Linked DNA regions of Homo sapiens. The protein of the gene in region 2 purifies or fractionates together with the protein of the main gene of each other region. This does not show direct contact. Each region holds a gene or a part of one and is shown on either strand. Other genes may lie near its edges.

Region 1 (3,821 bases), on a different chromosome or scaffold from region 2:
ACCATGTTGGCCAGGCTGGTCTTGAACTCCTGGCCTCAAGTGATCCACCCGCCTCCGCCTCTGCCTCCCAAAGTGCTGGGATTACGGGCCTGAGCCACTGTGCCCGGCCCATCTAACATTTTCACTGTCAATCACAATGGGATTAAAACTCCTCCCACAGCCCCTAGGGCACCATGGGTCTGCTCCTGTCTCCCCTCCAACCTCATCTTCTTCCTCCCACTCTCTCCTTGGCCCCATCTGCTCCAGTCCCCTGGCCTCCTTCCTGTCTGTCCTCAGATGTGCCCAGCCATTCTCACCTCAGCGCCTTTGCACCTGCTGTTCCCCCCAGAGCCGCACATGGCTGGCTCCCTGTTCTCCTTCAGGTCTCTGCTCAGATGTCATCTTCCCAAAGAGGCCTGCCTCGACCTCCCCTGCTGCTGTGCCGTCCCCTCATCTGTGACCCTCTTGCACTATCACCTCCAGGACGGCGGGGGTTTTGTGTTTTGTTGTAGCCTCAGGAAGTGCCTGATAGATCCCTGTTTCGAGACCAGTTCCATTTGGTTTTCTGGGCCTCAGTTTCCGTAACCGTGAAGGAGACCCTCGGCAATCTGAGCTTGCTGGGAAAGGGCTGGGCCCCATGTAAATATTTCTAAAGCACCCCTCTCCCCTCCCCCCTCAGATCAGGAGTCTGAGGGAGAGGCACAGAGGCTCCCTTTCTCTAAGCCAGTCCTCACCTGCCTAAGAAGATGTGAAGGAGACCCAGGAGACCCTGGGATAGGGAGGAACTCAGAGGGAAGGGACATTCTTTTCTTCGTCGCAATCCTGGGAGCTCCCTGGAGGAGGAGACCCGATCAGCCTGCAATCCTGGCGCGTCCCAGGAGGAGAAAGCGGCTTCCTCTATACTGTACTCTCCTCCACAGAACCCCCCTCTCAGCCCTGGAAGTCCTTGCTCACAGCCGAGGCGCCGAGAGCGCTTGCTCTGCCCAGATCTGCGCGAGTCTGGCGCCCGCGCTCTGAACGGCGTCGCTGCCCAGCCCCCTTCCCCGGGAGGTGGGAGCGGCCACCCAGGGCCCCGTGGCTGCCCTTGTAAGGAGGCGAGGCCCGAGGACACCCGAGACGCCCGGTTATAATTAACCAGGACACGTGGCGAACCCCCCTCCAACACCTGCCCCCGAACCCCCCCATACCCAGCGCCTCGGGTCTCGGCCTTTGCGGCAGAGGAGACAGCAAAGCGCCCTCTAAAAATAACTCCTTTCCCGGCGACCGAGACCCTCCCTGTCCCCCGCACAGCGGAAATCTCCCAGTGGCACCGAGGGGGCGAGGGTTAAGTGGGGGGGAGGGTGACCACCGCCTCCCACCCTTGCCCTGAGTTTGAATCTCTCCAACTCAGCCAGCCTCAGTTTCCCCTCCACTCAGTCCCTAGGAGGAAGGGGCGCCCAAGCGCGGGTTTCTGGGGTTAGACTGCCCTCCATTGCAATTGGTCCTTCTCCCGGCCTCTGCTTCCTCCAGCTCACAGGGTATCTGCTCCTCCTGGAGCCACACCTTGGTTCCCCGAGGTGCCGCTGGGACTCGGGTAGGGGTGAGGGCCCAGGGGGCACAGGGGGAGCCGAGGGCCACAGGAAGGGCTGGTGGCTGAAGGAGACTCAGGGGCCAGGGGACGGTGGCTTCTACGTGCTTGGGACGTTCCCAGCCACCGTCCCATGTTCCCGGCGGGGGGCCAGCTGTCCCCACCGCCAGCCCAACTCAGCACTTGGTCAGGGTATCAGCTTGGTGGGGGGGCGTGAGCCCAGCCCCTGGGGCGGCTCAGCCCATACAAGGCCATGGGGCTGGGCGCAAAGCATGCCTGGGTTCAGGGTGGGTATGGTGCGGGAGCAGGGAGGTGAGAGGCTCAGCTGCCCTCCAGAACTCCTCCCTGGGGACAACCCCTCCCAGCCAATAGCACAGCCTAGGTCCCCCTATATAAGGCCACGGCTGCTGGCCCTTCCTTTGGGTCAGTGTCACCTCCAGGATACAGACAGCCCCCCTTCAGCCCAGCCCAGCCAGGTACTGCACGGGGCGGGAATCTGGGTGGGGGCCAGAGTAGGGGATTTCTGTGGGTGCTAGAGGCTTGGCTTGGGAAAGGGTCTGTGTGTCACCCCTTGCTCCACCAACATCCTCCTATACAAAGGCAGGTCGGTGCGTGGGAAGGTTGACCCTTGTGTGTCTGGGAGGCCCCTCCATCTGTGAGGCTGCCTGAACCCCCCACTGGGACCTGTGATTTCTGCGGCACAAGTCTTGGGTTATGGGGAGGGATCCGAGATGAAAGGGGTCCTGACAGCTGCCAACTGTCACCCCCTGCAAGGGGCTGTTGAGCCAGGCCTGTGTTCATTACAGTTTGTCGCCAACACTGGCGCCACAAGCCGTGGGAGGTGTGTCTGTCGCCTAGCAGAGTCTGCAAGAGCAGGTGTCGCAGGCTTTCTTTGCGTTTGCTACTGTGTGGGTCCCTGTGACCTTGTTTCTGACTTAGTAGCGGACACATGAGTGTCCTGGGCATGTCCTTGAGTTTGGAAGTGTGACTGTGTGACTTAGTTTACAGTGTGATCTGGGGAGTCTGCGGTGGTGGGGGTGTGTGGCTCTGGGGCTTTCTGCTTATGTCTCTTGTGGGGGGGGTCACCACCCTGCCTCAGTGCCCTCTCCTGGGGTGTCCCTGGCAGGGATTAGGGGGGCATCCTCTGAAGGGAGGGGGTCTGGGCTGCCATCCCAGGATGTCCTTGAGCCCCGAGGCCTGGACCCGTGTCCTCCCAGCCACCCTGGCCCACCTGTCTTGGGCCTGCTGACTTGGTGCAAGCCGAGCCCCGGAATGTGGGGGTGGGGCGGGGCAGCAGCTGGGGGTGGGATGGCAGGCAGTTGCCAGATTCTAAAAATAACCACCCTGGACAGCAGCACCCAAGGTCTTTGGCGGGTCCCTGTTCCTCTTCCCTGGCTTCAGCTCACCGTGGTCCCAATCTCCCTCCCACAATCCCACCTGCTTCCCATCCCCGTCTCCCACCGCTGCTGGAGGCCCCTTCTCCTTTCTGGGTCCCTTCTCCTTTCTGGGTCCAGTGAATAAAATAATAATAACAGTAGGACCTGGCGCAGTGGCTCACACGCATAATCCCAGCATCTTGGGAGGCCGATGCTGGAGGATCACTTGAGGCCAGGAGTCCCAGACCAGCCTGGGCAACATAGTGAGACCCCATCTCTGCAAAAAAGTAGTAATAACAAATAACAATAATAGCAGCCACCAGGGTTCCAGGCTCCAACTCCATGCCAGGGCCTGTGCTCAGCCAACCTCATGGCCAAGCTCAGAGGATCCTGGCAATCCTACGGGGCAGGCTCAGTTCACAGGAGACAGAGGTCCAGAGAGGCCTAGTGACTGGCCTGGGGTCACACAGCAGGGAAATGGCATAGGTGGGATTTGAACCTGCCTCTGACGACCCAGAGGCTGAGCTTTTCTTCCCTTCTGAGCCCTGTGGGAGAACTGTCAGCAGGCAGAGGTGGGGGCAGCTACCCAGCCCTCCCCCGACCCAGCCCTTTGTCTTTGGATTGATAATCCAAGAACCTGCTCACATACTCCCAGCAGCACCCTCACCTCCACCTTCTCACCAGCTCCTCGCACGAACCTTTAAAATAACAACAACAGGCCAGGTGCCGTGACTCATGCCTGTAATCTCAGCACTTTGGGAGGCAGAGGTGGGCGGATCACTTGAGTTCAGGAGTTCAAGACCAGCCTGGCCAACATGGCGAAACCCCAACTCTACTAAAAATACCAAAAAAAAAAATAGCCAGGTGTGGCACACGCCTGTAGTTGCAGCTACTCAGGA
Region 2 (3,600 bases):
ATGCCTACAATCCCAGCACTTTGGGAGGCCAAGGTGGGTGGATCACTTGCAGTCAGGAGTTCAAGACCAGCCTGGCCAACATGGCAAAACCCTATCTTTACTAAAAATACAAAAATTAGCCGGACGTGGTGGCGGGCCCCTGTAATTCCAGCTACTCAGGAGGTTGAGGCAGGAGAATTGCTTAAACCCCGGAAGTGGAGGTTACAGTGAGCTGAGATTGCACCACTGCACTCCAGCCTGGGAGACAGAGCGAGACTCCATCTCAAAGTAAAATAATAATAATAATAATAAAAGAACAATACTTTTGTAGAGAAATGACAGGACAAAGGAGTTTTGAGCTTCCAAAAGTGGCAAACTATGGAAAGGTTTATATATGGGAAGAAACTTAATAGAGTAAGGTTTGTTTGCAGATTCCTTTGGTGCCCTCTCTGGGCTAAGAAGAGTCTAGAATGTCCAGTAAAGGTGAATTTACACCTGCCCTTTAGGCAGAAAAGGGAGGATAAAGAGAACTTTTCCTGCATTTGTCGCTTCTTAATTGCCTTCAGCTGAAAATAATTTTTCTGTCGAAGAGGCATATTTTGCGGTGATATATTCTGGTTTTTTCTTTTTCTTTTTTCATTGAGATGGAGTCTCGCTGTCACCCAGGTTGGAGTGCAATGGCGCGATCTCGGCCCACTGCAACCTCTGCCTCCCGGTTCTCAAGCGGTTTCTCCTGCCTCAGCCTCCCGAGTAGCTGAGATTACAGGCGCCCAAAACTGCACCCGGCTAATTTTTGTATTTTTAGTAGAGATGGGGTTTCGCCACGTTGACCAGGATAGTTTCGAACTCCTGACCTCAGGTGATCTGCCTGCCTCGGCCTCCTACAAGTGCTGGGATTACAGATGTGAGCCACCACACCTGGCCTTATTCTGGTTTTCTTTAGGTGTCTTCATTGAACAAGTAGGTATTGTCTGGCATACCCTTCTGGGTTATCTCGTCTTATGGGGTCTTACTTTTGTCTTTAAGCTATCTAGAGCTCTAGTGGAGCATTGTATATATACCATCATTAATGAGTTAAATGGTATCTTTGACATATGTTCATTTTATATTTGTGTGAGAGTCATAATTTTATTTTAAAAAAAAGATATGCTTTTTTTTTTTTTTTGAGACTGTTCACTCTGTCGCCCAGGCTGGAGTGCAGTGGCTTGATCTCAGCTCACTGCAACCTTCGCCTCCTGGGTTCATGATTCTCCTGCCTCAGCCTCTCGAGTAGCTGCTGGGATTACAGGCGTGCACCACTACATCCGGCTAATTTATGTGTTTTTAATAGAAACGGAATTTCACCATTGTTGTTCAGGCTGGTCTCGAACTCCTGACCTCAAGTGATCAGCCTGCCTTGGCTTCCCAAAGTGCTGGAGTTACAGGCGTGAGCCACCGCGCCCGGCCTTAAAATACATGTTCCTACTTTCAAACACTTAGGGCTTCCTATATGGAAGGGACAGTGGCGGTGCTCTAGTGTCCAAGTCCCTCAAGGAGGAGGCCGGGGGCTCCGCGGACCTCAGGAGTCAGGCCTCCAATCCCCAGTTCAGGGCGCTTTCCTCTTTTCCCAAGTGCTTTCTGGCTCAGCCATTTCCACTCCCGCTCCCTTACTTTCCCATTTCCTTCGGTCACATCCCCGCATATAGTACAGGCCACTGGAGCTGCCTCTGAGACACCGCCGCGGGCGCGGGTACACACTCCGCTAAGGGCATTCCCAACCCGGTTCCGCAGCCTAACGGCGTGGCTTGGACCCTGCTGCAGCCCGTAGCCCCTATCCTTTCTCCTCCGGACTTCAGTTTGGCGGCATCTCTGTCTTAGCGAGAGGGGCTGTGACTAAAAGCTGCCTTTTCTCAATGAACTGCCAGTTTGTAAGAGCCTCCGGGTCCCCTCAAACCGCCTCGAGCGCCCCTCTCCGCGAGAGCTGCGCGGCCGGAACTGCGCCGGCGTGACGTCACTGACCTCGTCGGGTTCACTTCCGGCGCTCGCACCGCCCCGCTCTCCAGCCAAGGCTCCGGGCTGAGGCATTTGCTTGGCTGCAGCCTCCTTCCGACCTGCCCGGCGGGACCCAGGGGACCAAGCCGAGCCGAGCCGCGGGGCCCGCTCCAGCCCGGCCATGAGCGCGGCCGCATGATGCGTCCCTGCCTCGGCCGCTGCAGTCGCCGCCGCCGCCGCCGCAGGCCGGGAGGAGCCGCAGCGCCGGGCGACCCCGCCCGGGCCTCGGGTGAGTGCGGCGGGCTGGGCCGGGCGGGCTGCTCACTCCCGGGTCTCCCGGCCACTTCTGGCCCCCGGCGTGCCCTGTCCTTCCGTCGGTTCCGCCGCTCTGTCTCCACCCCGCCGCACACCTGCGACCTTCTGGAGTTCCTAGGGGCACCTCCGTGCCCGCACCTGACTTCCCTTCCAGGTGCCCCCTTGTCATTCCTTAGTTGCTCTCTCGGGATAGGGCCCGGATTGCAGCCCCAGCTTTTTGCCTGACCTTGGGCGTGACACTCAGCTCTCCGAGCCCTGGTTTTCTGTGTGGCTAATGACGGGGTGGTGGTTACAGAGCAGCTATAAACCCTGTGTAAGCTGTAAAGAGTTTTTTAATAGGCAGGTATTACAATGAGCAGTCTCGCACTTCGCGTTGTGGCTTCTCTTCCTCTTAAGCTGTAAACTTTTCTCTTTTATTCTCTGCCCATCTTCCTAGTTATCTTCCCTCCTGCTCCACGTCAGTCATCTTTGGGTGTTAGTTGCCTGAAAGGGCATCTGGGACAGTAAAGCTTTCAGGGCAGTAAGGCTCACCTCTCCTGGTGTGGTTCCTTCTACAACTTTGTCACACTCAGTTAGATAGACACACTTTATTAGCTTATGAAGAACCAGTTTATTGTGGCCGTTAAATTGGAGTGTAAGAGACAGTGTTGATGCGGCTACCTGCCTTGTAGCTTCTTTTACTGTCTGGGCTGTATACAGTGCTGGGCAAATCGCTGCTACAGTGTTGCATTTTCAGTCTGCTTAGTGTATGCACTTAAGCGCACGTATTTATCTATTTTACTGTTACTATCCCAAGGGGTTTAGAGATTTAGGTCAATGTGTATTAATATTTCTTTCTGAACTCTTCATCTCACAGATGAAGAATCTCTTTTTTGTTATGTTTTACAGTGTTTACATACCTGAAATCACCTTTTAGTCACTTTGTGGCCTGGTACGCACGCGGTGGCTCGTGGCTCATGCCTGTAATCCCAGCGCTTTGGGAGGCTGAGGCAGGAGGATCACTTGAGCCCAGGAGTTGGAGAGCAGCCTGGGCAACATAGTGAGATCCCCTTCTCTACAAAAAAATTAAAAAATTAGCCGGATATGGTGGTACACGCCTGAGGTCTCAGCTGCTTGGGAGGCTGAGGTGGGGGGATCACTTGAGTTTGAGATCATGCCACAGCACTGCAGCCTGGGCAACAGAGTGAGATCCCCATCTCAAAAAAAAAAAAAAAGTCACTTTGTTAAATTCGCTTGTTAAAAGTCAGAACTTGGCCAGGCACAGTGGCTCATGCCTGTGATCCCAGCACTTTGGGAGGCCGAGGCGGGCGGATCACGAAGTCGGGAGATCGAGAC
Region 3 (3,821 bases), on a different chromosome or scaffold from region 2:
TATAACCTAAGATAATTTTTCCTTTTAAACAAAGACATGTGGCCAAAATAGGTGCAGTAAAGCCAAATGCTCCTGGGACACCGAACTAGGAATTACTTAAATAGAGTTCTTGGGACCATGGTTCACCTAAAATACTGGTTTTAACATTATTTGAAGCTCTTGGCAAGGTATTCTTAGCCTCCTCACACCTAACCACTCTTGTGCTGTGGGAAGGTCACCAAAAGAAGCAGAAGAGTCAGCAGCAAGAACAAAGGCAAATACAGACTTTTCGAATATGTTCCCTTAATATACTGTAGCCAGTAATGAACTTCATTTAAACCTAGCTTGGTTTATACTTAACCCGTTTTATATTTCCTGAGCTTGGTGTCAAAGTAATCACGTTACCCCTGCATAATTTAGGTCTCAGAAAGGAAGCATGACAATTCTAAGAAATACAGAAATCCAAAGAACAAAGAGGTTAAGAGGTCTTCTATGACAATATTTATAAGATAGGCTGCCTGTCTCCTGGAAACTTGGAAATGTTAAATTTGATCATCCCCCACCATAGTAAAAGATGACAGTGCAAATAAATTCCAGCCTTCTTAGAACCACCAATTTTCACTTTGGTAAGGAAAAAAACACTTCCAGGTGAAGAGTTTGCTCCACTAAAATTCACTACTTTAGAATAGTGTACTTTTTTCAATTGAAAAATAAAAACAATTTAAAACACCATTATGACTATGGTATAATCCCAAGACCTCACTGTACAGGCTTCTCACTCTGGCTTATTTCTATAATGCTGGTGATAAGATTAGGCTCCATCAAGAAAGCTGTTTAAAACAAAACACTGCAATGTAGGGGGATCGCGGGGAGAGGCAATCACCTTCAAAAAGAGTAAGCACTTAGTGCCTGCCATCTGCATGCATAATAACTTGCTGAACAATGGAATCCTTAAATATACATCTTTTTACACTTCAGGGGCAACAAGTCAGGCATTCACTAACAAGTGGAGGAACCATGTGCGCTAGAACTAGAGTGTGCTATAAAATTGATTACTTGGTTCCAAAATTTATTTTTAAGATTCCCCTTTTCCACCCCTGGGAACCCTTCTGTGCAGCCTCCCTGCCATGTCCCTGGAGCTCAGGGATCTTCGGGCTCTTTCCTGACACTTTCTGAAAGAATACGCGGCATTGTCACGTTTGGGTTAGAGTTGGAAAGATGCTCAGTCTCTTCCATCAACTGGGTCAGTGGAAGCCCGAGTCCAATTTAACTGTCACAGAATCTGGGTTGTAGGGGATACTCAGAGAGACAGATCTGAAAACTGGGACAGATCTGGGAACTTCTGCTCTCAGTGCACAGAGATGTTGGGCAAGGGTAGGGGGGATATCCTTTGAGTGACTGTGATAGATAATAAATAGCTGTTGGACACTGGATTTTTTTTCCTGTCATATAATTTCTGACCAATTTTACTAAACTTCAAATATGATTTATTTTTTTGAGACAGAATCTCACTCTGTCACCCAGGCTGGAGTGCAGTGGTACCATCTTGGCTCACTGCAACCTCTGCCTCCTGGGTTCAAGTGATTCTTCCGCCTCAGCCTCCCAAGTAGTTGGGATTACAGGCATGCACCACCATACCTGGCTAATTTTTGTATTTTTAGTAGAGATGGGGTTGTGCCATGTTGGCCAGGTTGGTACCAAACTCCTGACCTCAAGTGATCCGCCTGCCTCAGCCTCCCAAAGCGCTGGGATTATAGGCGTGAGCCACCATACCCGGCTGAAATATGATTTAAATGGCATTTTTTCCAAATACAGCTATACAATTACCTACACAGGCCATACAAAGTAGAGTTTAATACAGAACTACCTATAACTACCTATGCCTCCATCGCTAAGAAATAAATAATCCAATCACCTGAGAATTCAGATGACCTTTCACTTTCTCACACCCAGAGTGTGCCATTACTCTTTTCCTGATTACCTTTGCTCCCTTCTATGTGCTGAGCAGACTAGAATGGCTCCCCAGAAGAACCCTAAAACTCTTCCTACTTCAGATATGTCACAATCTGCCATGGTGCCTTTGGCCTTGATGACCTTCAATTTTAAGAAAACATTTATTTACAAATAGGTGCTACTAAGGTTTTGTTCTCAAGTCACACCTGTAATCCCAGCACTTTGGGAGGCTGAGGTGGGCGGATCACTTGAGGTCAGGAGTTTGAGACCAGCCTGGCCAACATGGTAAAATCTCGTCTCTACTAAAAATACAAAAATCAACCAGGTGTGGTGGCATGCACCTGTAGTCCCAACTACTCGGGAGGCTTAGGCACGAGAATCACTTGATCCGGGGAGGTGGAGGTTACAGTAAGCTGAGATCAAGCCACTGCACTTCAGCCTGGGCGACAAAGTGAGATTCTGTCTCAAAAATAAATAAATAAATAAAATAAAATAGAGCGTTTTTTTTTCCCTCCTTATCACCTTCCTCTGTATCTAGGTCCTATTGTTATTAAAAATAAATATGACATTTTTATGAATCTCCAACACAGAAATCATATATAGTTCTAATTCTAATAGAAACAAACTTGAATTTAACACGTTTAAGACATTATACCCTACAGATTTAAACTATTATTTGAGTTCCCAATCAGCAAGAAAGCTTCACCACCGCCCTCCTCACTAAGCAGTTCTAAAATGAGTTGTTTTTAAGCAATAGCAGAGCTGGGGCTAGGATTAGGGCTAAGCAAGGGGCAACATTTATAACTGTAGCAAATGGCAGGACCTAAAGGCACTTAAAAGTCATTCTTGGATTATCTATATTTACTAAGAATGAGAGAACAACAAAAAACCCTACACTAAACAAAACCCATAAATCCTTATATATGAGAAAAGGTATCAACATACACCTCAGAATTCATACAAACAAACAAACAAAGCACGTGAAAAATAATGCTGAAGTATCCAGTAAGTCCATAAAGTTGCAAGTATTTTCACTACTTAATTTTTTCTTGGTTTGGTCATATTTAAACAGCAAGAAAATTCTTGTAAGTTTCAAGTCCCTTCTTTAAGTTATTAAAAATAAATATCAGAAAATTCTGGGTCAATGCTTGAACTCTAGTTTTGAATGTTATTTACTACTTCTATCTTAGAGTTAATTGCTAAAACTTTTACCTTAAAATGCAATTTTTAAAGCTCTCATTACCAACCCACTACTTCTGCATAGTCCCTAAATCCTACCAAAACAAGGCAGTATAATTACAAAAAGTAAACAAGCACATTTCTTTTGGTAAACAGCTGAGTATGCTATTTTACTGCTGTTCAGAAATAATCATTAAGTTTGTGTGGCCTGTACATTTACTTTATATATTGTAAATATAAACTCTGTTATTCTAACATCACCAAATTATTTACATTCAAGAAAAATTCTCTATCTAATTGTTATTAATTAGGGGAAGATATTTTAAATAATTCTGACAAGATAAGAGAGACTAAACAATAAAAAGGCAACCCAATTATAAAATGGGCAAATGATTTGAACAGACATTTCTCCAAAGAAGATATACAAAAGGCCAGTAGACACAAAATGCTCAACATCATTAAGTCAGCAGGAAAACGCAAATCAAAACCAAGACTCAATACCACTTCATGCTTACTAGGATGGCTATAATAAAAAAGACAGACAATAACAAGTGCTGAGTATGTGGAGAAACGGGAACTCTAATACACTGCTGGTGGGAATGTAAAATGGTACAGCTGCTGTGGAAAAGTTTGGCAGTTCCTCAAAATAAGTTAAACATAGGCTGAAAACACAGTGGCTCAGCCTGCAATCCCAGCACTTTGGGAGGCTG

The links.
Region 1: the proteins of ZDHHC7 (region 2) and CKM purify together in Homo sapiens (affinity purification with mass spectrometry; 3 studies listed by BioGRID and IntAct, with this or other methods). This does not show direct contact.
Region 3: the proteins of ZDHHC7 (region 2) and NDFIP1 purify together in Homo sapiens (affinity purification with mass spectrometry; 2 studies listed by BioGRID and IntAct, with this or other methods). This does not show direct contact.

Annotation. Positions count from the first base shown.
Region 1 is NC_000019.10:45,321,022-45,324,842, reverse strand, and holds the start of CKM (creatine kinase M-type), read left to right. Parts: upstream 1-1,967; 5' UTR 1,968-2,022; intron 2,023-3,821. UniProt on the Homo sapiens protein: Reversibly catalyzes the transfer of phosphate between ATP and various phosphogens (e.g. creatine phosphate).
Region 2 is NC_000016.10:85,009,925-85,013,524, reverse strand, and holds the start of ZDHHC7 (palmitoyltransferase ZDHHC7), read left to right. Parts: upstream 1-1,989; 5' UTR 1,990-2,239; exon of another isoform or gene 2,240-2,419; intron 2,420-3,600.
Region 3 is NC_000005.10:142,125,611-142,129,431, reverse strand, and holds part of NDFIP1 (NEDD4 family-interacting protein 1), read right to left. Parts: intron 1-3,821. UniProt on the Homo sapiens protein: Activates HECT domain-containing E3 ubiquitin-protein ligases, including NEDD4 and ITCH, and consequently modulates the stability of their targets. As a result, controls many cellular processes.